7 linked regions of the Homo sapiens genome follow. The protein of the gene in region 4 interacts with the protein of the main gene of each other region in a pairwise test. Each region holds a gene or a part of one and is shown on either strand. Other genes may lie near its edges.

What was found.
Region 1: the proteins of SEC22A (region 4) and TP53INP1 interact in binary tests that used the Homo sapiens proteins (3 or more experiments, as listed by UniProt).
Region 2: the proteins of SEC22A (region 4) and HSD17B11 interact in binary tests that used the Homo sapiens proteins (3 or more experiments, as listed by UniProt).
Region 3: the proteins of SEC22A (region 4) and TYRP1 interact in binary tests that used the Homo sapiens proteins (3 or more experiments, as listed by UniProt).
Region 5: the proteins of SEC22A (region 4) and FAM174A interact in binary tests that used the Homo sapiens proteins (3 or more experiments, as listed by UniProt).
Region 6: the proteins of SEC22A (region 4) and CD207 interact in binary tests that used the Homo sapiens proteins (3 or more experiments, as listed by UniProt).
Region 7: the proteins of SEC22A (region 4) and TMEM79 interact in binary tests that used the Homo sapiens proteins (3 or more experiments, as listed by UniProt).

What each region holds. Positions count from the first base shown.
Region 1 is NC_000008.11:94,942,879-94,946,378, forward strand, and holds part of TP53INP1 (tumor protein p53-inducible nuclear protein 1), read right to left. Parts: exon of another isoform or gene 2,605-3,500; intron 1-2,604. UniProt on the Homo sapiens protein: Antiproliferative and proapoptotic protein involved in cell stress response which acts as a dual regulator of transcription and autophagy. Acts as a positive regulator of autophagy.
Region 2 is NC_000004.12:87,381,189-87,384,688, forward strand, and holds part of HSD17B11 (estradiol 17-beta-dehydrogenase 11 precursor), read right to left. Parts: intron 1,175-3,500; coding exon 1,067-1,174; intron 1-1,066. UniProt on the Homo sapiens protein: Can convert androstan-3-alpha,17-beta-diol (3-alpha-diol) to androsterone in vitro, suggesting that it may participate in androgen metabolism during steroidogenesis.
Region 3 is NC_000009.12:12,691,968-12,696,184, reverse strand, and holds the start of TYRP1 (5,6-dihydroxyindole-2-carboxylic acid oxidase precursor), read right to left. Parts: upstream 2,801-4,217; 5' UTR 2,707-2,800; intron 2,274-2,706; 5' UTR 2,189-2,273; coding exon 1,804-2,188; intron 671-1,803; coding exon 348-670; intron 1-347. UniProt on the Homo sapiens protein: Plays a role in melanin biosynthesis. Catalyzes the oxidation of 5,6-dihydroxyindole-2-carboxylic acid (DHICA) into indole-5,6-quinone-2-carboxylic acid in the presence of bound Cu(2+) ions, but not in the presence of Zn(2+).
Region 4 is NC_000003.12:123,267,943-123,271,289, reverse strand, and holds part of SEC22A (vesicle-trafficking protein SEC22a), read right to left. Parts: intron 1-3,347. UniProt on the Homo sapiens protein: May be involved in vesicle transport between the ER and the Golgi complex.
Region 5 is NC_000005.10:100,538,374-100,541,873, reverse strand, and holds part of FAM174A (membrane protein FAM174A precursor), read right to left. Parts: intron 1-3,500.
Region 6 is NC_000002.12:70,833,017-70,837,166, reverse strand, and holds the start of CD207 (C-type lectin domain family 4 member K), read left to right. Parts: upstream 1-1,350; 5' UTR 1,351-1,390; coding exon 1,391-1,463; intron 1,464-1,559; coding exon 1,560-1,676; intron 1,677-3,146; coding exon 3,147-3,521; intron 3,522-4,115; coding exon 4,116-4,150. UniProt on the Homo sapiens protein: Calcium-dependent lectin displaying mannose-binding specificity. Induces the formation of Birbeck granules (BGs); is a potent regulator of membrane superimposition and zippering.
Region 7 is NC_000001.11:156,282,978-156,287,124, reverse strand, and holds the start of TMEM79 (transmembrane protein 79), read right to left. Parts: upstream 2,801-4,147; 5' UTR 2,719-2,800; intron 1,942-2,718; 5' UTR 1,899-1,941; coding exon 1,142-1,898; intron 866-1,141; coding exon 652-865; intron 493-651; exon of another isoform or gene 338-492; intron 1-337.

The sequences.
Region 1 (3,500 bases), on a different chromosome or scaffold from region 4:
GCTAGGGGAGCTGAGCAGGAACCAGGTCCTGCAGGGCCTTGTAAGCCTGGAAAAGGGGAAGGGAAAAGTCAAAGACCCAGGTTTCTGGCTTGGCCAACTGAGAGGATGGTGGAACCATTTAGGGAAACAGGAATGAATCCTGCAGAAAGTACAGGTTAGGCATTTCGAATATGGTAAATTGGGGGGATATGCAAAATAATGCAGTTGGAGATGTCCAGCAGGCAGCAGGATATAGAGCTTTGGAGCTCAGGAGTGTGGTCTCAGCTAGGGGCATAGATTTGGGAGCTGATGACACAAAGACAGTGATAAAAAGCATAGGAATGGATGAGGCTAGGTGTGGAGGCTCATGTCTGCAATCCTAGCATTTTGGGAGGCTGAGGCCACAGGAATGCTTGAGCCTAGGAGTTGGAGACCAGCCTAGGCAACAAAATAACCTGTTTCTACAAAAAAATTTTAAAAAATTAGCCAGGTACAGTGGTGTGCACCTGTAGTCCTAGCTACTTGGGAGGCTGACGTGGGAGGATCTCTTGAGTCCAGGTTCAAGGATGCAGTAAGCTATGATTGTGCCACTGTACTCCAGTGTGAGTGACACAGCGAGACCTTGTCTCAAAAAAAAGTTATATATATGTATGAGATCATCCAGGGCTGAAGAAATGCACCTCACTAATCACCACCTCTTTTTATCACAAGCATCAGCCTTGAATCTACAACTTCAGGCTCCTGACAGTTCACTTTCAAAATAATCTTTAGCTGTAAAAGTAGTTGGGATCTGTAGCTAATGAGATTCCTGGTTCAGTTCCTTGTGTGTAAACTGAACTGCTACAGTTGTTTGGCACACTACTACACAAGTTAAACATTTCAAATAAATAACATTAGAACACTTTGTGGTCACAATTCATCTTCTTCAGCCACTAATTATTAAAAATAGGTAAACAGGAAGTGTCACTTGCATAACCAGTCTTCCTGAAACCTTCTGGAAAGCAGCACGGCCAAATCATGAAGGCTGGAGCTGTAGCAGAATTCAAAGTCAGCTTTATGCTCTATGTAAGAACAATCAGAAGAAAAGTGTAGTTTGTTTGACCTGCTGTGGTGTGATAGTTATATTCCAAAATAAGTTATCATAAGGTCTGATGTAAATAAAGATTTTTGAGGATACATGCTTAGAGGGAAAAACATATTTTCAAAATCCTTCCTCCATTTATTTTAAATTGTGGAGGCAGATATTGGCCCCACGTACAATTCTGTGTCTGCTGAACCAGTTGAGAGAATAAGCCCAATTCTGCAGAGCATGGTGCTGGACTCTAGCCCTGAATCAGCTAAAGCCACTGGGAGGGGAGAACCACACAGGGGAACCTTTGCTTGTCCTGAACGAATGCCTTGTCCCCAACCTGTGATGCTGCATGAGAGTAAGGCACTGGGGCCCAGGTCAGATAACTGGCAGCTGTAAGGCCAAAAAACATTGCTGGGGCCACTGCAGTTGTGACAGCTGCTGGGTTCCCACATGCAAATTGCCCCCTCTGGCCACAGGTCCAAACCCAGGAAGGCAGCTTCTGCCTGGAATATATGCAAGTAGCAAGTAAGATACAGGAAAGGCTTCTCTGGAGGAGCTTTCTAGGGAGCAGTACAAGTCAGTGCTCTTTTGGTTTCCCAAAGTCAGAGGCTGCCTCCAGATGTCCCATATCTCTGCAAGGACAACCAACCTTGGGCGACAGAGTGCTCAGAAGCCCAGCCAAGTGAGGGAGGAGCTCATCCTTCATCTCACTCAAGCCACTGCTGGTGTTTACATGGCACATCTGCTGACACCCGTGGGAAGAACACAGAATGGAGTTCCTGGGGAGGGTTAAAGGGGCCTGGCCATCCACAGCAGCAGTTCTGGCTGTGGCTCTACTACAGGTGGCTGGAGCTAAATTGGCCCTTCTGAGCTTCAGTCTCACTGTTGGGAAAATGGGGAGACTGCGCTGAATCACCTCGTCACTCTCTTTCCCCACAAACTTCTAGCACAAAAAAGTGAGGCTGGTTTAACTAGCAAAGCCAAATTCCTTTGGCCCTGCTTTCTGCAGGTGTCACAAAAGGCAAGGAGCTATTGGAGAGACCCTCCCCCCATTGCTAAAACTGTCCACTGAGGTAGCCACCAGGCACACTGTGCACATGAACACTTGAAATGTGACTAGTATCATCGAGAAACTGCATTTTTCATTTTACTATTTAATCCATTTACTAAGTTTAATCCAGTTAAACTTAAAAGCTGATAATTTAGTTTTTTGAAAACTTTCAAGTATGTTTGGAACAGTTAGGGTATGAATCTACTTTTTCACCTATAAATTTTACGAAGTCTAAATATAGATCAAGTACTTCAAATGAAAACTTTGTATCTGAATTGAGATGTGCTGTATATGTAAAGTACACACTAGAGTGTATTTCAAAGACTTAGTACCCCCCAAAATGCAAAACAGTTTTTATATTGATTACATGTTGAAAAAATAATTTTAGTATATTAAATACATTAATAAAATTAACTTCACCAGTTTCTTTTTCCTTTTTAAATATGGCTACTAGAAAATTCAAACATACATGTGGCTCACATTATCTATTTCTGTTGAACAGGACTGTTCTAGAAAAAGTCTTAAAGGCCTACCCTCCTACTGATGACCCAGAGACTGTCCCTGCCCAGTCACTGCTACTGTTGACCTTGGCTCCTGCCCAGGGATGGAGGCTCTCAACTGGGCTGGTTCTACATGGAGGTAAATGGAAAAGTAGAGCTTTAGACTCCTCTCCTCCCCAGATCACCACTAATATTCACAATGCTAGGGCAATCATAGAACGAAAATAAAAATTCCAGAGAAAGCATGTGTCCTAAGAGGACAAACTTACAAATACAGTTCTGGAATTCAGCAAAGAGGTGAAGCAAAGAAGGTTAGGTGAAGTAGCGCTGTTGTTCTTTGAACAGCTTTAACCAGCGTCAGTCCAGCAGTTTCCCCGACAAGAGAAAAGAACCCCTCAATACAGAAAAGAAACAAAGTGTCTGGGCCCTAGCATTTCAAGAAGGCAGCTTTGTCCTTGTTCTGCTTGGCTCAAAAGACCTCCATCCCTCCCTTTAAAAAATAAATTATGTCTTTTCAATTATAAACTGAACAAAACCACATTATAAAAAGTCTAGAAAATAAGAAAAATAAGTATTATTCCATTGCCTTGTTCCCACCACTTAACACATTGGTGCCTTTTCTTCTGTTTTTTTTTTTCTTCTACACATAAGGCTTCTTTTTATCATAGTTATAGTCTTGTGAATGCACTGTTTTGTATCTCACTGTTACTTAACATTTTATCATCAATGGTTTTCATATTATTACATGAGTAGAGATGCTTTGTAGGCAGAGAAAGGTGGCTGACTGAGTCTAATACTCACGGGGAAGAGCATTCTAGTTTGACCACTTAGAAAAGGAACTGCTAATTTGGAAGATCTTGTTAGCATAATTTATTTTGTCACTTTTAAGACAGCCCAC
Region 2 (3,500 bases), on a different chromosome or scaffold from region 4:
AAAAAAAAAAAAAAAAAAAGAACTCAAACCAAAAATTCCATAAACAAAGAGGTTCTCAAGTCTTGCTGAATCACACTTTTTATACTGCACTGAATTAGAATATCCAGGGGTAAGGTCCAGGAATGTGTATTTTAAGGAATCTGCCCAGGTAATTCTGATGACCTTGCTGCCATTAAGGTATTTAGTTAACAGGTACAAGCGAGAATGCGTTCAGAGTGAAACCCCATTATATACAGCACATCTCAATTGTATCTAGAAGAGGCAAATAATGCTTTATAGAAATAGATCTGCTGGGAGCGTGGCTCATGCCTATAATCCCAGGACTTTGGGAGGCTGAGGTGGGTGGATCCCCTGAGCTCAGGAGTTCGAGATCAGCCTGGGCAACATGGTGAGACCCCGTTTTCTACCAAAAATACAAAAAATTAGCTGGCGTGGTGGCACACACCTGTGGTCCCAGCTACTTGGGAGGCTGAGGTGGGAGGATTGCTTGATTCTGGGAGGTGGAGGTTGCAATGAATCGAGATCATGCCACTGCACTCCAACCTGGGTAACAGAGTGAGACCCCCCATCTCAAAAAAAAAAAAAAAAGAGAAAAGAAAAGAAATAGATCTATCTACAATAAAAACCTGATAAAGAATAGCTTTATTGTAACTTTCTAACCCAATTCTATGAATGGGCTTCAGAAGACCCTGTCAGCAATTCTGCAAGTGTCATCCAGGCATAGTTACCTATATGAGCATCATGGGTGAGATGAAGGCGCATGGGAGGCAGGGTGGATGTATTTGAGGCCCTGCCTTCAACCTACTGAAAGAAAATCTCTGGAAGTGGAGCCCAAGAGTATATATATACATTTTTAACAACTCCCTGGAAAATTCCAGAACATACTAATATTTGAGAGGTTCAGTTCTCGGTTCTAGTTTTGGGTTTGCTATGAGCTAGTTCTATAACCTTGGTCAAATAACAACATTTCTCAGGTACTTCATCTATATCATGTACAGACTGGGTCATCTCCAAAACACCTCCTAGCTCTAACATGATATGATTCTAACTAAACACAACATTTCACCTTCTTTGCAGAGCTGTAAATATCTTCTCGGTTGCTGCAGTCTACCACAAAGGTATGAACCTTGGCACCCAGTCCCTTGCATTTGGCAGCTGTTTCCTCCAGTCCATGCTAGAAAAAGCAAAAAAGAGGGCAAGGTAATAATTGATATGAACATATTATATCGACAGCTGAAAATAATTAAAAATAATTTTTAAAAAGTAGTGAGATTCTTTCCATTTGAATTGGGCAAGATTGTTAACAACACATTTTTGGCAGGTATATAGGCACATTTTGCTTTTAGTATTTTGACTAGCTTCTTTTATTTGGAGCTGAATTTAAAGCAAGCTTCTTAAAAGAAGATAAAAATCTTAAAATACTAGTTTTTATATTTATGAACTTTGAATACTTTGTGAATGTTGGTATCTCTGTGTATTCCATATCAGGCTTTAAAAAATGTAACATTAAACTTTTTTCCATGTCATTAAAAACTATTCATGGATGTCAGTTTACTGTCTGCAAAAGAAATAATGAGTTAACCACAGTTCATTAAACCATTTGTTCTTTCAGCATTTTAATGTGAAGGTCATATTCACTGAGCTTAGAAAAACCTTGACACAAATATGAATGAGGTAGAGTCCCGACCCCAAGAAGTTCTCTGTGTAGTAGAAAGAAACATAAGTATCATAGTTAAGTAGGACCACGTAATACTGTTATTGTTTTGATAATAAAAGATTGAATATTGGCAGTTTCAACCTAATACATTGTGATGAGTATCACAGCAGAGTTCTATACAGGGAGTTACGGGAACACAGAGGGGCACACAATACAATTCCAGCAGTGGTTTGCCATGCCCTTTCACTTGCTTTCCCCAGGGTGAAAGGACACATCAGGCAGGGTGTGGGCAATGACAGATAGGAGATTGGTCTTGTGGAAACCACTAGTAGGATTAGTGTTGTTGGATGGATCATAAAGGTCAAGGCCAGAAGAAGTTCAGATTAAGGTCCCACATGTCATATTAAGATTTATCAAAAAATGAATGAGGAGCCACTGATTAAATTATAGTGTCAGGTTTATGTGTCGTATTGATTATTTTGGCTGATGTATGGAGGGTGGATTTTAGGGGTCAACACTGGAGGAAGAAAAAAACTGAGAGGCAGTTACAGTGATTCAGGTAATAGATGACACAAACTTGAAATGTGGCATTAGTAGAAAAAATGTAGAGGAAAGAATATCCTTTAAAATATATGTTTAGAAGGTAAAATCAGTAAGACTTGGTGAGTAGATGAGGAAGGATGGGAAGGAGCCACATCTGACATCTTTGCTTTCTAGTTTTGGTAGCTGGCAAGATCACGCTGCCACATGTCAGACAGAGATGACAGCAGATTTGAGGAAAAGGGGTTATGAGTCCAATTTGGGGCGCCAATTTTGAGTCAACTTAAGTTTAGGATCATACCATTGGGGTTTTTTGTTGTTGTTGTTATCTTTGCTTGTTTGCTTTTGGCCAATTTTTGCCTTTTTTTTTTTTTAACTTTTAAGAGAATGTCTCAAAAGATATTTTGGATGAAGATCTAGTATTGTGCATTCTGCAGGCCAAGTATTAGGTTGTTGGAAAAGTAATTGCTGTTTTTGCCATTAGTTTAATGACAAAAACTGCAATTACTTTTGCATCAACCTAATAATTGTCAACTAATGCACTAATGGGCAGACCCTAGGAGGACTCATACATTTATCCACAGAGAGGATGGTGAATCAGTGTACACATTTGTAAATGGCAACTAATGTTGGAAAGGCCAAATCTGGACAGCTGTGGGGAGAATTAGTAGCTTGCATAGTGAAACTGTTATGATAATAAAGGGAAACAAGTTCTTTTTCTCCTGTGGGAAGTCAGGGACCCCGAATGGAGGGACCGGCTGGAGCCGCGGCAAAGAACATAAATTGTGAAGATTTCATTTTAATATGGACATTTATCAGTGCCCAAATAATACTTTTATAATTTCTTATGCCTGTAATCTCTTAATCCTGTTATCTTCATAAGCTGAGGATGTACGTCACCTCAGGACCACTGTGATAATTGTGTTAACTGTACAAATTGATTGTAAAACATGTGTGTTTGAACAATATGAAATCAGTGCACCTTGAAAAAGAACAGAATAACAGTGATTTTTAGGGAACAAGGGAAGACAACCATAAGGTCTGACTGCCTGTGGGGTCGGGCAAAAAAGAGCCATATTTTTCTTCTTGCAGACAGCCTATAAACGGATGTGCAAGTAGGAGAGATATTGCTAAATTCTTTTCCTAGCAAGGAATATTAACATTAATACCTTGGGAAAGGAATGCATTCCTACGGGGAGGTCTATAAATGGCTGCTCTGGGAATGTCCGTCCTATGTGGTTGAGGTAAGGACTGAGATACGCCCTGGTCTCCTGCAGTACTATCAGGCTTATTAGGGTGGGGA
Region 3 (4,217 bases), on a different chromosome or scaffold from region 4:
TATTTAGTAGAGAAGGAAGACATGCAAATGAGATTCTTCTGTTTCAAGCTTTATGAAAGTCATGTTTTCAATGAAACTGCAAAATATTTTTAAACTTTTAATTCATTCCTGCAAATGTCTCATTTTGCTCATTATTGATTTTGCTTTATTTTCACTTCACCAAGATAAAGATTAATTAACAAGTAACCAAAATAAGGAGAAAACGAAATGCCAAAGACAGGTTAGTAACATAAAATTGCTTTTTCATCAAATGTTCTGATGATTCTGAAAACTAGTGAATTAAAATCACTTACAAACAAGGCATCTTGTCTGTAAAGAGTCTGCAAACTGAAATGCTTCTTACATACCTGCATGTCTTTCTCCAGACGCAGGAGGTGGTACCTGTGCCATGTGAGAAAAGCTGGTCCCTCATGAGAGAAATCCACTTCACCAAAGCTTTCCTGTCCTACCCCAAGGAAAGTCTTTTTGACTGAGTAATAGTGTGTCCAAACAAAGTAGTTATAAATGGAAATGTTCTCAAATTGTGGCGTGTTGCCATCTGGCCCCAGTATTTCTTCTGATCTCCTGGTGGCAATGACAAATAAAGGGTGAGTTGTGCGCTTTGCCATATCCAGGGCCCGGACAAAGTGGTTCTTTTCTTCTTTACTTAAGTCCAGAAGATTTCTCCTGACTTTAGGGATACAAAATTCAAGCATGAAAACATCTGCCTTGCGGGGATGGGTAGAGAAAGAGCATAATCATCTTGTAACACACCACGACCCATTTATCCATCTGTTCAAATGTGTTTTAAATTATTTTACACTTTTAAAAATATCCTTAACTAAAACCCTTTCTTCAAGCCTGCTTTCTCTCTCTTTCTTCCCTTTTCTCTCTCCAATTTACTGCATGATTTATATTACCTTTCTTTAATCTTACCTATGGATTTTATGTTTCTGTGACCTTGTCATGTTGATTTCTGCCCACTGTTGGCATTTTTGTTGGAATTTTCTGTCTTTTTAACATTATAAATCTTTGAAAATTAGGTGATATAACATAGTAGTTAAGACCAGAGAATTATTCTATGACTTTGGGCACATTTTTCCAAGTCTTAGTTTTTTTTTAATCATTAAAATGTGGATAAAAATAATACTTGCTTTACAGAATTGAAAGTTCAAAGACCACACACATAAAAAGCAATTAGCCCAAGGCCTAACTCATAGTAAGGACTCAATACATGTTCATTTAAACCCTTAGTCTACTATCTCGCACATAGAACACAATCAAATATTGTTGGCTGTTACTGTTTAGTGCTTTGTTATTTAATGCTATTTAGTCTGCAGGCCAAACTCTTCATCTCAAATGCTGAATTTGATCATCATGGTGGGAAACTTCTTTAAGGGTCAGCAGGGGTAGTTGCAGAACTAAAATATAAGGGCTAGGTAGATCTCAGCATGAATTCCAGGTTTACTAAATATCACCTGTGTGGATTTGAACTTTCTGAACCTCATCTATGACAATTAACATGTTTACCTGAAGGAGTTACTGAATTGACTAGTCATAATACCTAACACAGTTCCTAGGATATAGTGGTTGCTCAATAAATGTTTCAGAATAAAATATTGATCAGAAGTTCTGAGCTTCAACTCCAACCCTTTACATTAAACAAGTTTCTTAACCTTTCTAAGCCTCAGTTTCCTCAACTATGAAAAGAGAGGGTTGAGCTATATGATTTCCAGGTATTCCTCCAGCTCAAATGATTTAAGATTTTATTAAGAGCCTTGAGTCTCATGCAGGACTTATGAACTCATTCATATCTCCACTTACCTATGAGAACCCTCTGGTCACAGGCAGCTCCTCTCCAGCCAGGACGGCACGTCCCACAGTTGTGTCCTGAGAAATTGCCGTTGCAGTGACATGTCCTATTGAAGAAGCGCAAGGGCCAGACCTCCCGATCATCTCTGCCATCATGGGGATACTGAGGGCTGTGGGGCCGGGAGTCTGCAGTCACTGCCTCACATCTGCCCCTCCCTGATGATGAGCCACAGCGGTCTGTCCCAGGCCCAGACACAGGGGACAGGTCTGGGCAACACATACCACTTCTCAAAGCCTCAACAGTGGCACACTGTCTTGGGAATTGAGCCCGGGCCTGCTGAAAAAGTAGCAAGGGGAAGAAGATACAGCCCAGAGAGAGGAGTTTAGGAGCACTCATTCTGCTTGAAATAAGAGTGCAAAACAAAGACCTGGTTTGCAGCTCTTTGTGTAGAGAAGACTGAAGCACGTAGAGGAAAATCCAGCTGAAAAAGAGAAAGTAAAATGAGATTATGCAAGTTTTTCTTGGTACTTAAAATGGTATGCCCCCTTCCCAAACCACTTTCAAAATGGAACCCATATGTAAAATGACATTTCACACAAATAATAAAAGTGTGACATTTCACACAAATTTTACCTTTAAAATTTGGCATATATAACACCTGCATGTGTGATACCCAAATAATTAAATTCCCTGTCCTCGTCATTTTGTTTATATATATATACATACTAGATATCAGTTATCAAAAGCATGAATTAGCAGGTCACCATCATTAATTACATTTAATTTAACCTTGGAGCTGAAGGAAGAATTGGGAACAGATTTCCAGCAAGTTAATTTCTGTGATTTAAAGTCCCTTACACTAATGGAGTTTTGGCACGTGTCCACCCACTCCCCATAGGACTTCTTTCCAGTACCTCACAATCCTGAAGGATGTCTCTGATGAACTTCTCTTAGAATTGAATGTTTTATATTTGCTTGTGTTTCTTGTCCTCTCACGTCAGAACTGTTAAGTGCATGTGGATTGCTGCCTGATAATTAATCCCAAATCTGCTCACCCAAACTAGGCGGGGGGCTGGTCTTTTTTTCCACCCTTTACTAATCCTTTTCACTTCAGTGAATATTTCTGCCCTTTAAGGACTTGATCAGCACATGATTCCCTTCCAACTGATTTCCTTGTGATGCTTAAAGTTTTAAGAAAAGGCCAGAAGCACTAATTTGGAATACAAGTCAGATAAACTAGTGAGATTTGTTTACTTTGCAGAGATTTTTTTTTATTCTGTTATTCAACTGTTATTCAACATATTACCTTGCTAGAGCAACCAGGCAAGAGAAGGTATAAAGAGCATCCAAATTGGAAATGAAGAAGTCAAATTATCCTTGTTTGCTGATGATAAGATCTTATATTTGAATAAAACCTAAAGACTCCTCTAAAAAACTATTAGAGCTGACAAACAAATTCAGTAAAGTTGCAGGATACAAAATCAGCATACCAAAATCAGCAAAGTTTCCATATACCAACAGTGAAAAATGTGAAAAAGAAATAAAAAAGTAATCCCATTTACAATAGCCACACATAAAATTAAATACCTAGGAATTAACCAATGAATGAAAGGTCTCTATAATGATAACTACAAAACATTGATGAAAGAAATTGAAGAAGACACCAAATAATGGAAAAATATTATATGTTCATGGATTGGGAGAATCAAGATTGTTAAAAAGTCCGTATTACCTAAAGCAATCTACAGATTCAATGCAATTCCTATCAAAATACCAAAGACATTCTTCACAGAAACAGAAAGAAAATCCTAAAATTTATATGGAACACCAAACCTTGAAGAGGCAAAGTTATCCTAAGCAAAAATAACAAAACTGGAGGAATCATATTACTTTACTTCAAATTATACTACGGAGTGATAGTAGCAAAAACAGCATGGTACTGGCCTAAAAACAGACACATAGAGCAATGGAACAGGAGAACCCAAAAACAAAATCACACACCTACAGTAAAGACATTTTTCACCAAGATACCAAGAACATACACTGGGGAAAAGACAGTCTTTTTAATAAATGGTGCTGGCAAACTACATACCCATATGCAAAAGAATGAAACTAGGTCCCTATCTCGTTCCATATACAAAAATCAAATAAAAAATGATTTGATTAAATATTTAAATCTGAGACCTCAAACTATGAAACTACAATGAAGAAACATTGAGGAAAATCTTGAGGACATTGGTCTTGACAAAGATTTCTTGAGCAATACCACACAAGCACAGGTAGCCAAAGCAAAAATGAACAAATGGGATCACATCTAGTTAAAAATCTTCTGCACAGCAAAGAGTACAATCAATGAAGTGAAGAGACAACCCACAGAATGGGATAAGATATTTGTAAACTACCCATTTGACAAGGGATTAATATC
Region 4 (3,347 bases):
TTTTGTATCATATTTTAAATGGAAGTACAATGGAATGACTTCCTTGCAAACAGGCTGAGCAAATTCCCCATGGTGACAGGCAACTAAGAAGCATTCCCAGGGTCTGCGGGTGTTCCATTCTCACCCAGGAAAATACAAAAAAGCACATACAAGCTATTCTACAAAATGGACTCTTAATATAACCTGAGTCTGAGTATTAACAAAATCCACAACATTTTACTAGTCGCCCACTGAGTACAAGGAACTATGCTAGGTACAGCATCTGACTGAACATTTGAGGGAGAATTCATTCAACAAATATTTACTCAGGGCCTGCTACAAGTCAGGCATTGTTCTTCAGTTGTAAGTAAAACAAAGCCCTTGTTCATATAAATATTAAATTTTAATGGGGAAGAATTATAAATGTATTTTAAATATATAATATCAAACAGTTATGTCTTGAAAAAGAGAAAGCAGGAAAAAGGGATAGGGAGTAAGAATGATAGTGGGTGCTATTTTAGATGAAACGGTCAAGAAAGTACTCCCCCTCTCACCGCTCCTGCCCATCCTGGCATTCACCCTTTACTGCTTTATTTTTCTCCACAACATACTATAAACATACTTGAGAAATGTGCTTATTTTGTTTGTCATCCATAGGCTTTCAACAGAATCTATTTCATGAGGGGTGAGATTTTTTACTGTTATTTACTCATTTATCTCCAGTGCCCAGAACAGTGCCTGGGACATAGTAAGTGCTCAATGTGTTGAGTGAATAAACTGTTTTCTAGAAGATGTCTAAAATTCACAACCTGGTAAGTATAGGAACCACAAAGTCTAAGAGAGAGGCCCAGGTCTCTCTGAGAAACTGTGTCCAGGCTTCAGAATGGGAAGGACACACCAGTGTCTGTTATAATGCAGAAAGAATGTGGAAATGTTCTGTTAAATATGTTTAGTTCTTATGCAAATTTGGACTGTTTACTTAAAAAGAAGACTGCTATCCAAGCAAAATGAATTGGAAGTATTTATCAGTGATTTTCATCATATAAGACTGAAAAAATAGAAAAAAATAGCTTTTTCTTTCTAAACAATTTTAGAGTTAAAGATGCAAAAACAGTTTATTGTATACGCTTTGTTTACTGTATACTCTTCACCCTGTTCCCCGTTATCCTCTTATGTAATCATAGTATAATCATCAAACCAGGAAATGAACATTGATTCAATACTCTTAGCTAATCTACAGACTTTATTCAGATTTTGCCCATTGTCCCACTAGGGTCCTTTTTCTGGTCCAGAATCTAATCTGGGATTCTGTATTGCATTAATTGTCATGTATATTCCAATCTGTAACAGCTCCTCCATCTTTTTTTAAAAAAATTTTTGGCCAGGCATGGTGGCTCACACCTGTAATCCCAGCACTTTGGGAGGCCCAGGCAGGCGGATCACGAGGTCAGGAGATTGAGACCATCCTGGCTAACACAGTGAAACCCTGTCTCTACTAAAAATACAAAAAATTAGTCGGGTGTGGTGGCGGGCGCCTGTAGTCCCAGCTACTCGGGAAGCTGAGGCAGGAGAATGGCATGAACCTGGGAGGCGGAGGTTGCAGTGAGCCGAGATCACACCACTGCACTCCAGCCTGGGCAACAGAGCAAGACTCCATCTCAAAAAAAAAAAAAAAAAAAAAAAAATTCATGTCCTTGACAGTCTTGAAGAGTATTAATCAGTTATGTTGTAGGAATGTCCCTCAACTTGGGTGTGTCTGATGTTTTGTCAAGATTGAAATGAGGTTATACAATTTTGGCAAGAATATCAGAGGTGATACGCAATACATGTTATTACATATTAAATTAGATCACTTAATAAGGTGGTATCTATTCCCTTTGCAATTATTGTCTTGGGGGCAGGGAGTTGAGATTATGTGAATATCTTATCTCATCATACTTTTGCTCATTAATTTTAGTATCCATTAATGATTCTTGCCTGCAACAATGATTACTGTGGTGTTCGCTTAATGGTGATTTTATATTTCCATTTTTTATCTATATTTATTGCTTGGAATGCTACTGTAAAAATGAGCTAGCATTTCCAGTAATATATACACACACACACACACACACACACACACACACACACATATATTTAATTCAAGGTTTTCCAAGGCTTTTAAAATAATAGGTCTCTACCCCACATATTACTTATTAATTACAAAGAAGAAAAAGATATCTTTGCAATGGGGATCTGGTAGACACCATCTTAACCAAATGATCAAACTTATCACATTTCCTGACTGAAGCAATGAGAGATATTCAGCATATTATACTATACAGCACTGTTGCCAGAATATTTAACCTTAATATAATCACGAGTAACAGACTAATCCAGATTGTGGTACTTGCCTGAACTCTTAAAAAAGTCAATGTTAAGAAAGATAAAACCAAACTAAAATAGAACAACAACAAAAAGGCTGGGAGACTGTATCATAGATCAAAAGGTACACGACAATCAAATGAAATGCATAATCCTGGATCAGGAGAAATATAGCCACAGAAAACATTTTGGAGACAACAGAAATAATCTGAATAGGAATCATATATTAGATAATATTGTATCAATGTTAAATTCTTAGATGTGATATGAAGTCCTGGCTATGTAGACAGATGTCTGTATTCTTAGAAGATACATCATGAAGTATTTTAAGGTAAAAAATATCATGATGTCTGTAACTTACTTTAAAAACAACGGCTCAGGGACTTCTGTTTCTGGGAAGATGGAGTAGACACACTTTTCCCTATTTCTCCCACTAAGTACAAATAAAAACACTGGACATTATATGTAAAACAAGCATAAGAAGACTCTGAACTGTGGAGGAAAAGCAGACAAATAAAGAATCTTGAGATCCAAGAATGCCACAGTGGTAGGTTCTCTGAGTTTTCTTTTTTGCTTCATATATCCCAGACTTGGAGCTGAAGAAGCTGGCAACTAGAAATGCCAAGGCATGCATATCAAAACAAACAACAAAAAAGACCCTCAATAACATCTTGCTCTCTCTGGTAAAAGACCAGGAAAGAGGCACCTTAGCAAGACAGAAAACTTTTAAACAGTAACTATTATCCTCTAGCCAAACATCACACAAAAAACCCCTGTGACCCACCCATACCCACACCATCAAATGTTGAGAGCCTAGAACATTATAAGCAGATGTTTTAACCCTTCAGCATGGCTTCAGAAAAGGCAAGTAGAAGCCAGGACTTTCATTCCCACTAGATGGCAATGAATCCCTCCTCTACCCTCTTATTGTGATATCAGTGGAGAACACGTGGGACTCTGGACACCCACTTTCACTTGACAGTAACAAGATAATTCATTTCTCA
Region 5 (3,500 bases), on a different chromosome or scaffold from region 4:
AGTAAGAACCAGTGCACTGAGTGCTACAGAAAAGGGGAAAATATCCATGAAACTGAGACAATGTGCTTATTAACCATCTTCTGCATGAGTAATTCTAGAGTGGTAGAATTAGAAGCCAGACTACAAAAAGCATAAGAGAGAATGAAAGGCATGGAAATGGGAACATTTCAATGGAAAATCTCTCTCCTGTCCTATGACAAGAGCTTTATTTAGATTCCCTCCTTAATGTCTTCTTAGGTATCTTCCTTTCCCATATCTTCAATATTTCCTTCTGTACTTGCTCTTTCCCCACTAATGGCATTTAAACAAGACTGGATAGTTCATTCTTAAATGGACCCCTTTCTACAGCTCTCATCCAATACTTCTCCCTGCCTGCACAGTTAAGAGTGAAATGAAATATATCCAAGCAGAAAAGGTCAACTGAAAATAGATTCAGTTACAGGGCAAGTTTGTAAAAGATTTATGCTGATTAGAGATAAATATTTAGTCTTCTACAAAAATATAATAGTTTTTGTTATGTTATGAAGTGGCTTTTCAGATGGCTTTGTCTAACAGGAATGATATTTAAGAGCAGCCTTCTCCAAATAGCTTCAGCTCTTGCTGCCACATTCCCAAAAGTTTAGTTTATTACCACAAAAAGCAGTGGTACTCCTTCACTAGATAAGCTCCTTGAACACAAATATGATGTCTTTATTATCTTTGAAGCCCTAATATTCAGAAGTTTGAGAGATATAACAGTCATTCAAATTTATCAGAAACAGATTTGTGTGGGCTTAAAGGTGGCCCATATGATAACTTGTCAAACTACTTTACATAGTCCACATTCAGCATTGTCCTACAAATCTCCTGAGCCAGGGTGTCATACAAGCAAATGGCTATTGATGTGGTGAAGCAAAGATCTCCTCAGCTCTTGAGATCACTAGGCAGTGTCTAAGGTGGATAGTATCAGGGCAGGTAGTCTCATACATTTACCCCGTATAGATATCAATGTCTATATGTGGCATTACATGAGCAAGCATTGCTCTGGCCTCAACGCCCCCAACAAACTAGTACATCTCCACTTTTACCTCCCAGAACTGCACACATAACAAATATCACTTAAAAACAGAGCATTCTATTATCACTTCACTTATGATATGATAATCATATCAGGGATTATGATCCCTGACATATCAGTTATGTCATCATCTTGGTATTTTGGCACTTGACCACATAGCAAACTAACTTGACACTTTAAAATATTTTAGGTGTATGAGTAAACATTTTGTGAAGGGAAGTTTCACCTTTGCAAAAAAATATTCATTACTTGCGAACTAGTACTTGTTAAATACATTTCCAAGTTTCTGGGTCTCTTTATATAGAAAACATTTGATATACACTGACTAGCTAAATAAATAATGGCAAACCAGGACAATTTACACATGTTAGGAAAACTCCACTTTCCAAGGAGATATGAACAATTATAATGGAAGTTCCATGAATGCAGGGACTTTCCTTGTGCACTACTAACCCTCATCACAGAGCTTAGTAATGGCACCCAATAGGTGGTAAATAATATTTACTGAATTAGTGACAGTCACTAAATACATAAATGGTTAAATAGTCAAAAGTACTCCTGGTTTTGCTTAAATTAAGTGATTTCTATGGATGTTTTATAATTTTGTAAATAGGGCTGGTACCACAAGACTTCTAGGAGAAAAAGAAAACAACTCATATTCTTAAGTAACCAGACAAAAGAGAAATGGTGATTAAAGTCACATGCATAAATCATTAGTGACTTGCTCCACTAAGGTGGAAATATGTGTGACCATATTAACAGACGTTTCTTTAAAATATTACCATTCCCTGACTATGTGTAGTAAATCAGGAAAATCTTTGGATGAGGGAAGGAATGCAGGGAGTTGAGGTAGGAAACAAAATTATTTCACCTTGGCACAAATATGATGATCAATAAATGTTAACTCACTTTTCAAAAAGGTAAAATTTGGAGGTTTAACATCCAACAAAATCATGTGTTTTAAACAGAAAGGCACTGGGCATATACTATCCACTTTATTTTTCTCCATAAATAAGCTAGCCATCTTTATGTGCAATATCGCTTTAAATTGGTTACTTTAAATGATCACAGGAAGCAGCATGATGGTTGAACATGTTAGGTAAGTTCCAGCAGAGCTGGGTTTGGGCAGGTCCTGTATGTGCACGCTTGGGCAAGTTATTTAAACTTGCTCAGCCTAAATTTCCTCAGTAAGAATGATATTACCTACTTTGAAGGTTTTTGCAAGAATTTCAAAATGCACATAAAGTATGCGGTATTATATCTGACACATAAATTATCAATTAACTATCAGCTATTAGGATGATAAGTAAAAGCTCAAAAATAATCTTTCAGTTACAAAGTATGGTTCTTTGAAAAAACCTAACGTTGTGTCTTAGCGTATAGGGTTGGGTAAGCATTCAAATTAAATTAATATTCTTTATTTCCTATATAATATGTATTAATAGGATCTGCATTTTAATGCCTTTTCATAGCATCCTTTATGTACTTATCTATGTGATTATTTGGTTAATGCCCCTCTGCTCCTCTAGTATATAAGTGTTATAGAAGCAGAAATGTTTGTTTTGCTCAAAACTGTATCCCCAGTGCCCAGTACTGGTCAGTTGAATAAATATTGACTGCTTAAATAAAGGCTATCATAATAAATTTCATGCTCATCTCCACTATATGAGCATGAGCACCATATTTTCTTGAAATTGGAAGAGACTTGCTAAAGAGCATAGAGATTTTTTTTAAAAAAAGTAGAGGGTTAAACTTTTAAGCATCGATTTCCTTCCAATATACCAAATTGAATAAAAAACGAAAAACCAACGACATGGCATGAAAAAGGAAATAATTCCCTGCTTTTAAGGCAAGAATCATTATTCAGCTATGACAAAAATTGCTTTATATAATTACCATACGTGCTAAAACCAACAACCATCTACAGTGATTTCCCCCCACCCCCGCTCCCTGGCCTTATACATTTTACTGTGGAGAGAATGTCCTACTGAGAGGAAGGAAATAAAAGTATTAATTGAGATCTTCGCAGTTCTTTGTTCCGTCAGTAAACAGCAATTATCCTTAAATTTCCAAATCCTTACCACCTACCTGTTCAGCAATATAATACATGAAGAGTGCTCATCCATTAGGCAACTGCTTATTCAGTGCCCATCATATATTGCACATGATGTTTAGCACTGAGGATATAGGGGAGAATAAGACAGAAAAGTCTCTTTTCATAGAGATTAAGTGTTCATTTTAGGCAATCTACTTTGTCCCTACCGTGTTCCTTGCATATATATATATACACTTACATATATATATATATGTTTTGTATTTCTACAGTGAGAACCTGACTGTTCTTTGGAATGTTTCCAGACTCAAAAAGGAAGTTATTATTACCTACATATTCATTATAAATGAATTAGATAAAAACAAAACTATTTGAAAGTCTCATGTAGTT
Region 6 (4,150 bases), on a different chromosome or scaffold from region 4:
CTTACCATTCACACATCCATCCATGCATCCTCTATCCATCCATTCATCCATTCACCCATCCTCCAATTATCTGGACCAATTTCCTTCTTTTTTCTTTCCTTCCCTCCCTCTTTCCTCTCCTCTTTCCTATATTCCAAGAAATATTTGTCTAGAGTCTGCCATGTGCCAAATTTCTCAGATTTGGCAGACTTCTTCAAAGCATGAGAAGCCGCCCAGGAGAAAATTTAGTCCTTCATTGAGCCCAAATCAGCTCTTCTGTGCCCTGAGCTTCTTGCACATATGGAACTCTCTATTTAGGACTACAAAGAAGGAGAGAGGAGGTGCGGACAGAGAGAGAGGAGAGAGAAACAGAACGATTCCTAGTCTGAGGTTGCTGAGCGCCCCTACTTTTTTTGAAAATCTCACATGGTGCAGGAAGCAGGGAGGAGAACCCAAGTCTTAGGTTTACACTTTGAATCTCCAAGTTGCATATTATAAAGGGATATTGTATCAGCCAAGATGCATTAATAACAGGAAGCAGGATATTCTATTGCAATGGTTGCCTATTTGGTATCTCTGCTTCCAGGCTTCTCCCCACCAGTCTGCTCCTCACCAGGATCAGAGTGATGTTTCTACAGTGTCCCTGTCCTTGTCTCTCTCCTGCCTGAAGTCCTTAATTGGCCCCATGTCACCCACAAGCCAGAGGTCCAGCTCCTTGACATGATCAGAAGGATCTTCATCATCAGACCCCAGGTGCCTCTTCAACCCCGTGTGCATCCCCTTCCTGTTGGAATGTATATTTTACATTCCAGCAATATTGCAACTATTTACAATTTGCCAAGCACTCCATGCTATCTTATGCTCCATCCTTTGGCATATGCTTATCTTTCTACTGGATTTTTTTTTTTCCCATTACTCCATTTCATATGCTTCTTTGAACTGGGCATATTTGTCTCTTGTGCTCATCACCTTGCAATTTATTTGCTCATGTCTGTCTTTCCTACCAGACTATGAGCTGCTTGGTGCAAGGACTGCGAGTTATTCATCACTGTGGCCCTATGCCTGGTAGAGCATCAGTACCTAGAAGGCACTCAGCCTGTATTTGTGGGGTGAATGGATGGGTGGATGGATGACGAGAGTCTTACAAGAGAAATGGGATAGGTTTGGGACAAGATGGTTAATGTATCCATGTAACAGACCCCCAGAGAAGACAACAAATGGCCTCTTCCTGAAAGCTCAGACTTCTGAGGATGGGAGTAAGCCAGACAAGGTATCTAGTCAGGAATAGGGAAGTTGGGATGATATGGTGACCTGCTGTGGGACTGACTTCCTGTTTCCTCTAGATAAGAGCCCTTGGAGAGACAGGCAGCCAGAAGCACCTGTGCTCCCAGGATAAGGGTGAGCACTCAGGATGACTGTGGAGAAGGAGGCCCCTGATGCGCACTTCACTGTGGACAAACAGAACATCTCCCTCTGGCCCCGAGGCAAGCCACATCGCTGCTGAGAACCTGCTCCGTGTTCTGTGTGCAAACCTGCCCTTTGCTGCTCCTTCAACACACATTTTCTTCTTCTTCCAACAGAGCCTCCTCCCAAGTCCGGTCCATCTCTGGTCCCGGGGAAAACACCCACAGTCCGTGCTGCATTAATCTGCCTGACGCTGGTCCTGGTCGCCTCCGTCCTGCTGCAGGCCGTCCTTTGTAAGTCCTCATGTTTCATCGTCTGGGCTTAGCCCCTCTCTGTGGCCAGCCGGCTCCCTTCAGATCGAGACCACTTCCCTGCTCTCCGGGTTTCTCCTGCCTGTGGCTTTTTCATTTGTCTCCTTCCTCCTCTTTCCATGTGCAGTAACAGGCTGTGCTGCCCCCAGTACGGTGAGCTGATGCTCTTTCCCTCCCAATTTCTGGGAGATTATTGGGATTAGCATTTGCACATTGGTGCTCAAGGATACATTCTTTTGTCCTCAGGAAACATTGATCTAGTTTTACATCCTGTGCTATTTTCTCCCCGTCCACCCCCCACCAATCTGAGCTCTGCTCCTTGGATCTAGAGCCTTGTGGACAGTCCTTGACAGTGCAATGTCTCCTGACCCTGTGAAGGACCGAGCCTCATGTATCATTGGCCCCAGCTCACCAGATGGAGAGCCTGGCCAACGAGCCAACAGATCTCCATGACTCAGTCCCCTCTCCCCAGGACTCGTTGGTGCTGTCTTCATTCTCCTGTCCCTGTGAAGATCACATCTAGGGAGGCTTCCTGCTCATTTGATGTTGCATGGTTTATCTTTCTTCCTTTTCTGGCTCTGTCAGGCTTCATGGCCTTTGCTGCTGGCAGAGCCTTCTTCCTCCTGCCAGGGCTCCAGGAAGCAGAGCAAAGGGACCCAAGAAGCTGTTGGGTTTTTTTTTCTCCCTCTGTGGCCTCGGGACATATTTGGGCTTAGACTTGTAGGCTCTGAGCAGAGTCCCCCTTGCCCCATCCTAGACCCCTGGCCTCTAACATCGCATTTTCCTCAGGGCTCGCCTTTGAGCCTCTTGGTTTATCTTTGATCCTCTCTCTGGTACCCAGGCCTGGGACCTGAGCAGAATGTGAAAGTGGGTGGGGCAAGGGAAGGGGAGAAACAGTTTTGTAATCTCCTCTTCCATGTTCTCTGGAGAAGCCACTTCCAGATTAGTGGCTGGTTCTTCCCATGGTCACAGAGGGGCCCATGGACAGATGTGGGGGAGTGGTGCTGTCCTAGCAGATGGCCACTGCAGGGGTTTCTGAAAACAGAGGGATGGCAACCAAGGGGTGGGGTCTAGGGGGAATCAAGTTCTGGGGACAGTGGTGGGGCTCATGGAGGGCACCCTTTATCAAATGTTCCCTGAACACTCAGAAAATTCAGGAATGGTTTCTAACTCCTGCTTCTGCTTGCCTGTGAAATCTTTTCACAGAGAGCCTGTGTTTTATCAATCTCCCCATTATCTGTATCCACCTGTGTTCCTGGCACATGGTAGGTGCCCATTGCACGTTTGTTGTACGTTAATGAATGATTGGAGGGTTGGGGTGGCCCATTGGACTGTCTTGGTTCTTTGGGAAGCTTCAGCCTATTCCTTCCCTTCCTTTGATCAACCTGACAACACCCCCACTCCTGTCCCTGGGACTCCCCTCAGCTGACCTCCTGACTTTCTCAATCCCAGATCCCCGGTTTATGGGCACCATATCAGATGTAAAGACCAATGTCCAGTTGCTGAAAGGTCGTGTGGACAACATCAGCACCCTGGATTCTGAAATTAAAAAGAATAGTGACGGCATGGAGGCAGCTGGCGTTCAGATCCAGATGGTGAATGAGAGCCTGGGTTATGTGCGTTCTCAGTTCCTGAAGTTAAAAACCAGTGTGGAGAAGGCCAACGCACAGATCCAGATCTTAACAAGAAGTTGGGAAGAAGTCAGTACCTTAAATGCCCAAATCCCAGAGTTAAAAAGTGATTTGGAGAAAGCCAGTGCTTTAAATACAAAGATCCGGGCACTCCAGGGCAGCTTGGAGAATATGAGCAAGTTGCTCAAACGACAAAGTAAGTGACTCAGAAAATTACATTGAAGCTGACCAGTGGCCCATGGGATCTTACCTGTCCCAGACCTGAGGCCATTGGGCTGGTGGGTTGGGGAGGAGAGTGGGGGCAAAAGAGGGGCAGCCATGGGCTAGGAAGTTAAGGAGAGAGGGCTTGAGGTTGGGGAGGACTTAGGGGCTGTTAGGAGAAAAGAGACCAGGGTCCAGCTAGAGCTCCCACACAAAAGTGCAGAATGTAAAAGCATTAGGGGATGTCCACCCTGGCCCACACCTAGTCATTTCCCATCAAGTTCCTTTCTAGAGTCCAGGGGCTCAGCCACTTGTCATGGCCGATGGAGGGTTGCTTCCTCATCATGGGGAAGACACTCTTTGTCCAACCTCTTGCATTATAACCTCTCCAGTCCCAGAGACTCTATTAGTCTCTGTCTGACTTTCAGGATTTGAAAGAGTGTCCCTAATCTCCTATACAAGGACCCAAGGACACCAGCGCACAGCTCCATTTGCTGCTGTCTCTGAGACCTCATTCAAGTGCCCCCACCAAGCCAGCATCCCAAGAAATCAAGAATACCAGCGTTCACTTTTACCTCTTGTTCTCTAGATGATATTCTACAGGTGGTTTCTCAAGGCTGGAAG
Region 7 (4,147 bases), on a different chromosome or scaffold from region 4:
TTGAGATGAAGTCTAGCTCTGTCGTCCAGGCTAGAGTACAGTGACACGATCTTGTGTCACTGCAATCTCCACCTCCTGGACTCAAGCGATTCTCCTGCCTCAGCCTCCTCAGTAGCTGGGACTACAGGTGTGCACCACCATGCCCAGCTAATTTTTGTATTTTTAGTAGAGACAGGGTTTCACCATATTGGCCAGGCTGGTCTCGAACTCCTGACCTCAAGTGATCTGCCACCTCGGCCTCTCAAAGTGCTGAGATTACAGGCATGAGCCACTGCACCCAGCCTTGTCTCTATTTTGAAAAAATATATCTATTTTTAAGTTGTACATTTGGTTACAGGGGGTGTTCAACCAGAGACCAAAACAGCTACCTGACCAGATTGCCACAGGAGTGGCTGCAATGGGTGCATTGATCTAGATGACACCTGAAAGCCTTCTTGTTCCATATGGTTATATATGTCTCTGAAATCGGCTTCCATCTGCTGACCAGCTGAGGTAAGGTGCAAGAGAGAAGGTGGACTTATCTCCCCAGGGCACACATTTGGGCCAGTGTAGAATCCGGAAAGCTCCTGACCCTGGCTCTCCAGACATTCAGATGCCTAGGTTCTCTAGCACCATCCCCTCTCCCATGCCCCACCCTCTGCCCCAACTTACCGGGAGACGGCAAAGAGACCAGTGAGCAGAGGGAGCAGTTTGAGGGTATCCTGGGGCAGGTAAGTGGAAAGCACGGCCAGGTTGAAGAAGTAGAGAATAAAGAGCTGGACCGACTGGGCCACATATCGCCGGTGGATCTCCACCTCCCGCCGTGGCTCCCCAAAGGGCCGAAGGGCAGAAAAGCATAACAGGCTCAGCCCGTACACCAGGATCCCTGGGTGGAGTTGGGAAACAGGGTAGGGTCAGAAAAGGCAGGGGAAGGGCACAAGAGGCAGTAAGCTGGGGGCAGATTCACTGTGGGCAGTGCATGGGCTCTACACAGTGGGGTGGAGGTGGTCCTGGGAGGAGATGGGCATGCAGACTGGCAGGGGGTGGGAGACCCTGAGGGGCCCAGGTCAAGTGAAGGGAAATCCTCCTGCTCCCCACACCAGCCAGGCCCTGCCCTCCTCAAGTCCACTTCCCGATGCCCCCTTTCTTCTCACAGGCTCACCCAGCACAATGGGGAAGGTGGCAAAGACCCCGCAGCGCAGTGTGTAGATCAGGCGGGAACTCATGGTGGGCAGCCGTGGGACATCAAACGGCAGGAAGGCATATGCCCCGTATAGTAGGCAAGGGAAGAGAATGAGTGCGGCTCCCACGGAGGCCACAGCCCTTAGCCACTCACGGTCTCCACAGCTCCCGCAGCCCCCACAGGAACAGCCAGGCGGCCTCACCACTGCCTCAGCCCACTTGCGCTCAGTGGGGTCGGGGTGGGTGACCCGGGGGGGCATGAAGGTTCGGCACTCGCCCTCGCCTGCCTCACAGCGCACGATAAGGTCTTCTTGGGGCTGCCGCTCAATGCACTGTAGGTCAATAGGCACGAAGGCACGGGCCGCTTTCTCAGGCAGCAGGTTGGCATCGTCTTCGGGCAGCTCCTCTAGCTTGGTAAGTGGTTCTGACTCAGGGGGCTCTGGTTCAATGTCCCGCCAGCCAGGGGGATCCGGGAACGGAGCACTGGGCTGAGGGCCAGTCCCCCAGGGCAAGGTGGCAGCCTCACTTACTGTGCTGTCTAGACCATCCTCAGCCCCCTCTATGGCTGTGGGAGATCCAGCTGAAGACCCCACTCTGAGGGACTCAGCTCCCGGGGATTCGGCCCCACCTTCCCCTTCTGGCTGCCGGCCATTGGGAACCAAGGCCTGGGGTGAGCTCTTCTCTGGGGAATCAGACCTCTTCACTTCCAGTAGGGCCAGGGTCTCCTGTTCTGTCATCCTGGGGCCTCAGTTCTGGGATCTACCACAAGGTCATGTCATCCTGCAGGGAACAGAGGAAAGCTCTGTCAGAAACCCCTGTCTTCTAGTTATTAGGACAGGTTGACAGAACTCATACTCTCCAGGGCAACTGGCTTCATGGGTTTTGGCCCCTTCTGGAGCCTTAGGGAGAACGTGGTACAGAGGAAGACACTGAAACAGAGGGAGGAGGGAAGGAAGTGAGCAGCTGAAATGGAGGCACCCTTTCGACATCAAATGCCGTCCAACAGGAGAGGGTGAGTCAAGGGACACAGGCCCTGGCAGCTGTGAACTCAGTCAGCCTCCACCCACGCCTTCTATGCCCCTCCACCAAAACCCCTGGAGTCATGGCCACTCTAATGCAGGAATAGGAGGCAGAAGAGGTGTCTAGAACTTTGCCAAGTTTCTTTCCCACTGAGGATCTTGCTGTAGACAGAGAAGCTTCCTCTCCACTGTCCCATCCCTACACATCCCTGCTTGGAACCCTCCTGCATTCCAAGTGAGACCAGTGATTTGCCAACTGATCTGACCCAAAGAGCTGGCAGTTCCAGGCACCCTCTTCCTTCACTGGTACTTGGTCAGTTCCCAAACTCCTCACTAGCCCACCTCATCCATCTCTGCAGGGCCTGGGTCTGCTATTCTGATATTTAGGTCTGATCATGGCTGTTTTCTATGCCTTCTCTCCTGTCTTTCTCTCCTCCCTGCTGCCCTCCATCTCATTGCTTCTGGATGGGACTGATTCCCTTCCTTTATCTCAAGGGCACTCCAAACCTTGCAGTTTGGACCCATGACATCCTCTTACTTTCCATATGGAGTGGAGGGTCCCCAGCGTCTGTCCATCCGTCCGTCCGGGAAGGAGCTGCCCAGCTACCTGCTGGCTCTGCAAGTATTTCTCTCTGTCTCCCTCCCTTTACCTGTGTCTCAAAACCTGTCTGACCAGAGCAGGTGGGGCCCAGCTTAAAGGGGCAGGCCCCGCCCTGCTGAATCTGCCGACAAAAAAAAGCATCAGAGGAGGATGTCATCCTTTCTGAAAGTTGGGATGCAGCTGGGCAAAGGGGTAAGTTCACATTCTAGGCACCTGGAATGCGTAAGAACTCCCAGCTCAGGAAAGCAGAGGGAGAAAAGTGGATTTGTGCAACAAAGGGTGCTCGGAGTAGGCTGGGATACCCAGAAATGGAATTTGTACACTTATTCATTCAGTAAATACTTACTGGACACCAATTATTAGCTAGGCAGACACAGAAGAGAACAAGATGACAGTTGAGGTCTCTGCCCTTGAGAAGCTTATGTTCTATTGGGGTAACATAATGAAGAAGCCTAGCAACTAAATCAATTAGACAATTTTAATAGGAAAGACCTCTTTGGTAAGGTAATATTTGAGCTGAAACCTGATGGGAAATCAGGAGTATGAGTGTTACAGACAGAGGAACAGCAAGTGAAAGACCAATGGATGGGAAAGACTTAGGCTGTTTCAGGAACAGAAAGAAGGTGGGTGGCTGCAGCCAGGAGCATAGTGGTAGAAGGGCAATTTATGTTCTCATTACAATTCATACACAGGCAAAAACAACAACAACAAAACAAACCACCCTTGCTTTTTAACTTAGGTTTTAAGCTAAAACAAGACAAAGCAGTCACGCTCCTAGCTGTAAGCCCACCTGCCCTGATTTCCAATGTGAGGATTAGGAGATAGAAACGTTAGGGACTAGCTTCTCATTTCTATGAGTCCTTATCCCTAAAATCATTTGAGCTTTGGGAGGGCAGGGATAGTGTCTAGCTTGCTCACCTCTGTGTGTCTAGAATCTTGCACTGTGGCTGGAAGATGGCAGTTCAATAAATGTTACTGGCTCGTAAGAGATAGATATGCAAGCTGGAAATCTTTGGGAGGGGAGCTGAAGGGCCGAGACGCTTGTACAAGTCATTTCTTCCGGGGCTTTACTCCTATGTGATGCTCGGCCCTTTCCAAGGAAACTTTCACATGCACTTTTTGTTTGTTTAAATTATGGGGGAAAAGGGAAAGCTGGAGTCACTCTAACCAGTAATCTGAAAGAGGCTTGGCTCAAACGGGGAGGCGGGAAAGGGGCAGAAGGATGGACCAAATGACCATTGTAGGACAAAGCAGTCACGCTCCTAGCTGTAAGCTCACCTGCCCTGATCCAGTTAAGCTTTGGCCGCCTCAGTGGGTACACTGTCCGTTCTCTGATAGCTTTGCCAATAAAGTTTTTCGCAAGGGT